Regions from separate parts of the Homo sapiens genome. Here region 2 is linked to region 1. Evidence: fine-mapped expression QTL. Tissue or cell type: whole blood. Region 1 holds a variant in brackets; the other region holds the start of a gene. All regions are shown on one strand. Distances are from middle to middle.

The links. PIP is the estimated chance that this variant, and not a neighbour inherited with it, causes the effect.
Region 2: it holds the start of SENP7, and the variant in region 1 is fine-mapped to the expression of SENP7 in whole blood (INTERVAL, PIP 0.98).

What each region holds. Positions count from the first base shown.
Region 1 is chr3:101,762,180-101,764,868 of GRCh38, forward strand. CEP97 (centrosomal protein 97) reads left to right here. Exons shown (of 11, transcript NM_024548.4): 10 at 306-381; 11 at 2,668-2,689. Among named protein-coding and RNA genes, the nearest start is that of NXPE3, 16 kb to the right of the region's middle. The variant A/G (reference allele first, on the strand shown) is at 1,560.
Region 2 is chr3:101,512,086-101,514,774 of GRCh38, forward strand. It overlaps SENP7 (SUMO specific peptidase 7), which reads right to left and starts at 1,127. Exons shown (of 24, transcript NM_020654.5): 1 at 1,006-1,127. The coding sequence starts at 1,045.

The DNA.
Region 1 (2,689 bases):
TTTCTTATTACTGGAAATACTTTGTAGAACTAATACCTGTATTTCAGTCATATCTCCTTTGGCTTCTACTTTGAGTCACAGTTCAAAATTAAGGTTTATGATGTCACTTATAAAACTGTTCCATTTTGATTCTGAGGTTAAAAAAATAAAAATAAAATAAGGTTTTAATTTAGATATTCTAAAAGTGGGAAAGACAACTATTAGATTATTAATCTCTTTACAATGCATGTGTTTATGAGTTGTAACAGGAAGTCTGAGTCAAAGCACCCTTCCTTATGTCAATAATGTGTTTTGAATTATTGTAGATTACGAAAAGAAAGAGATGAAGAACGTATTAAAAAATTTGTACAAGAAGAAGCTTTCAGATTCCTTTGGAACCAGGTAAACTCCCTCCTGCTGATTTACCTCATATATGATCAAATACAGATTCTATATTCATTGAGATAATCATAGAGTACTCAGGTGTATTAAGCACTCTTGTTCAAGGTTAAGGGTATGGCTTGTGTTCTTCGCCACTAACTGTGAACTAGGACAGTGAATTTTCTTGCATTTTATTTAATCTGAAGAAAAATATTCTGACAATTTTGACAAGAAAAACAAAATAGTATAAAGCAGGAGGAAAGTGGCTTAACTGAAGGCTGTTAGAGCTTTCCAATAGATACAACAACCCCAATTTGAAATTTCATGTAGCTATCGATCTGTCTTTTGGGAATATTTGAATGAATTGTGATTAAGATGGTATATGACTACAATATGCATGTCCTAAAAAGTATTCATAACTGTATAGGAGAGTATTTGAATCCTATAATAGCACACTTTAGGGACAGTTTAGGCAGTTGGTTTTACTAGCATTGTATCACATCAAATACTTCTTGATGATAATTTCTTGAAAATATTTTAATAAAATTTTCATTTCTTCTTTTTTATAGAAATGGGGTCTTGCCATATTGCCCAGGCCGGTCTCAAACTTCTGGGCTCAAGCAGTCTTCCCTCCTCAGCCTCCCAAAGTGAGCCACATCACCTGGCCAAATTTGTTATAATAGGATTTGACCTATAAAATGAAAAAATAATTATTGATTTGTAAAGTTTTGTAGTTACCAACAATAGAGGAATGGTTAAATTATAGAATAATAATACTGTGGAATACCATGGAATAGTTAAAAAAAATAAGGTAATGGTATTCACCAACATGGAAAGATCTCCAAAATAATACTGTTTAGTAAAAAAAAAAAACAGCACTAGCGCATTACAGCCTTGAACTCCTCAAGTGATCCTTCTGCTGCAACCTCCCAAGCAGCTGGGACTACAGGCACACACCAGTGTGCTCAGCTTCCCTGTATATTTGAAAATACGACCTAGAAAAAAGTCTGGAAGGATATGCATCAAGTTGCTGTCAGTAATTACCTTGGGCGGGGGGTCAAAGGGAAACTAAAAACTGTACATACTGCTTTCTTGTTTGCAGTTTTTACAGTAAAATTTTGGAATTTTTGTTATACTTTAGAAATTAGGGGTCATATTATCAAGAATTTGGTATGTTTTTAGGTATTTTAGAAAGTTGC[A/G]TATACTATATTGTTAGCTAATACTTAAAAACTGTAATCTCTACCTGGGTATCTAAAATGAGACTTATTTTACAAGATCTACTTATTTCAAGGGCTCTAACCTGTCTTATTGAATAGATCTCATTATATCTTGAATACATTATTGACCCCTTATTCAGCTAGGCATGTGCTGTTGCGCATTATTGACCCCTTAGTCAGCTAGACATGTACTGTTGTGCTTCTTGCTGTTTTTCTTGTAGAAGCAAGAGAATTGCTTTGGCCCATTCCCACTCCTGGTGAGGGCCTTTTGTTACCAGGGACATGTACCATTTGTGCCAGTCTGGTTTTAGGCTTGGGATGCTATGGAAAAGATAAAGGGAGTCAGCAGTTTCTAGCTCCAGTTCTGCCATTTGCCAGCTTCATGACTGCTGGAAAAAAGAGCTCAAAGGAAAATTGTAAAATAGACAGGTGGGGTGTGGTGGCTTGTGCCCGTAATCCCAGCACTTGGGAGGCCAAGGCAGAAGGATTGCTTGAGCCCAGGAGTTCAAGACCATCCTGGGCAACAAAGCGAGACCTCATCTCTACAGAAAAAATTTTAAAAATTAGCCAGATGGACGGACACGGTGGCTCACGCCTGTAATCCTAGCACTTTGGGAGGCCAAGGTGGGCGGATCACCTGACGTCAGGAGTTTGAGACCAGCCTGACCAACATGGGGAAACCCTGTCTCTACTAAAAATAGAAAATTAGCCAGGTGTGATGGTGGGTGCCTGTAATCCCAGCTACTTGGGAAGCTGAGGCAGGAGAATTGCTTGAACCTGGGAGGTGGAGGTTGCGGTAAGCCGAGATTGTGCCATTGCACTCCAGCCTGGGTAACAAGAGCGAAACTCCATCTCAAAAAAAAAAAAAAAAATTAGGCAGACATGGTGGTGGGCACCTGGAGTCCTAGCTGGTTAGGAGGCAGAGGTGGGGTGGGAGGATCACTTGAGCCCAGGAGGTTGATGCTGCAGTGAGCCATGATTGTGCTGCTGCACTCCAGCCTGGGTGACAGAGCGAGACCCTGTCTCAAAAACAAACAAACAAAAACAACACTTTTTATTTTATAATACAACTGTATTCTCTGGTTTATAGGTAAGGTCTCTACAGGTTTGGC
Region 2 (2,689 bases), 250 kb before region 1:
TTGGCATTACAGGCGTGAGCCACCGCGCCCGGCCAATAAATCTGTAATTGTTAACTGTCTCTGCAGAAACCAACGGTACCATCAGAAACAGAAAAATGAAATGAAATAATTGATTCATTGGGCGTTCGTTTGTGTACTGGACTGTAAGCATATGAGTCCTCGTCCTCTCCTCCTACCATCCATAGGACTTAACACAAGGACTTGAGGACCCCCTAATGGATGAAATGTTTGATAAAAACTTCTCAACTGGGAGGAGCTCTACCTCACGTTTTTATAACTCCACTTTCTTGTTTCCAAGACGTTGTACACAAAACTGAAGATAGTCATTTAAAACAAAGTAACGTCCAAAACAAAAAATATGCTGAAAATAAAAACACAACGAAAGCACGGCTTCAAATCCTTTGTTTGACTTTCCAATCACTTTTGGAAGACGCAGGGTAGGCTGGAAAAGAAAAAGGCTATTAGGCGGGCCTGTTCAGCAGAACGAGACCCGGAGAGGCATTGTATCAAAGAAAAGGAGTCTCCGGTCGCAAGCCCCACCTTTCCTCCCCAGCAGCAGCTACCTGCTGAGGGAAAGAGGAGGGAGAGGGGAAGGGACGCAAAGTCGAGAATCAAAGGAAGAGAGGAAAGTGGGGTCAGGCGCTGAGAAGCCGAAATGAAATTGGAACATTGGTGGAATTACGAGGAAGGCGTGGCAGAGAGTGACAAGCCAACCGGGAAGATCCATGGGCCGATGAGACGCAAGGAGGGTGTTCGCGGGAGGAGGGAAAAAATAAAAGGGGTTTTGAGGTGAAGAGCGCCCGAGGCTTCGATGACAGCTCGGACCGGGTCTTCGACTCCAGGGGCGGGGGCGACCCGGGAGCCTTCCATTGTGCGCGCCCCTTCCTCTCCCCGCCCCCGCCCTCGCCCCCGCGGCTTCGGGCCGCAACCCCAGCTGCCGCCTGCGCCTCCCGTTTCCCCCGGGTAGGAGACAATATGTTCAGCCCTTCTCTGACCCTTTCTCACCGGATGAAGATGGCCGTCGCCCGAGCTTTCTCTTGTCCATCTTCTCCCGCTGCTGAAATTTCAGTTGCAGGCGCTGTCACCTCAGGACCCCTCCGGCTTGGAGAGGGAGGGGGAGGGGAAAGGAAAAAAAAAAAAAAAAAAAAAAAAAAAAAAAAGCCCGCAAAGTGCGAAGCGCGCTTGCGCAAGAGCCGTCGCCTGCCCTTCGACCGGAAATCAGCCGCCCCTCCCACCTTCGACCGGAAATCACTTCCTGGGACTTTTCACTGTGGGCTGCCTCTTCCAGCGTTTTTTTGGTGGCGTTTATTTCATGATCTGAGCCCCTCTGGGGAGGTGAACCACCTGGGTGCTCGATTTTAGCTTTGTTGACTTTGAAGATTAGATTGACAAAAATTAAAAGGGAAAAACAGGAACTCCTCCGGTTCACTGGATCTCGCGAGGTGGCCAAACAACTATGAAAACAAAACGTTAGCGTTTGCAGTATTACATCCCTCACAGCCTCTCTTACATATTTGCCCCCAACGCCTTTCCTCGAACTCAGAAACCAAAAGATTTTAAGATGGCAAAATCACCTAATAATAGCCTAGCTATTAGTTTAGCATTTGCTGTGGAAATATGTCAGCAGACGAGGAAAAATGTCTTAGGATTCCTTTTTAAAATTCGAACTTGTGATTTTTAAAGTTCCTTAAAAGAAAAGCTAGAACTTAATTTTTCAATAACTGAAATGCTGATATGACAGAAAGTGGGTGGCTATAAACTTGGAATTTGTTCAATTAACATTTACCACGATACTTAAGGGACTAATCCAGTCCTCAATGAACTCAAGGTCTGGTACTATTAGCCTGATTATCCCTAATGGTGCATATCTGAATAATTTTTAAATGCACGTGTAAGCTTTCATGACGATTTAATCACAAGTTTAACAAAATTCAGCACAGTGCTCTAAGCAGGGAAAATGTTTCTGGCATGTTCAAAGCCCGAAGGGACTCTGGAAGTAGGGTTTGATTCCCAAGCTGGCCCCTTTATACCCCTAACGCCTATCCCTCCAACCCCCATCTCCCATCCTAACGGAGTCAATAAAGGGATCGGCCCAACTCGTCCACTAGAGCAGTCCCCTTCATCGTGAGTTAAGCCTTCTTAATTATAATGTGGTCAGTCCCCAGGTAGAGGTAAGGCCCCAGGTGTTGTGGGGTGTTGGGCCTGGGGAAGTGTTCTACATGGCAGGAATGACTGCAAAGCAGAAATACTTTAAGTCTTGCTGGGATTGAAGTTTACTGTAAGGATTTCGTTTTATTTGGTTAATTTCTGTTTAACAAAAACATTGCTTTCTGAAAAATAATTGAATTTTCAGTTTCCTCACAAATTAACTTTTTTTTTTTTTTGAGACGGAGTCTCGCTCTGTCGCCCAGGCTGGAGTGCAGTGGCACAATCTCGGCTCGCTGCAAGCTTCACCTCCTGGGTTCACGCCATTCTCCTGCCTCAGCCTCCCGAGTAGCTGAGACTACAGGCGCCCGCCACCACGCCCGGCTAATTTTTTGTATTTTTTAGTAGAGATGGGGTTTCACCATGTTAGCCAGCATGGTCTCGATCTCCTGACCTCGTGATCCGCCCGCCTCAGCCTCCCAGAGTGCTGGGATTACAGGCGTGAGCCACTGCGCCTGGCCCAAATTAACTTTTTTAACTAAAG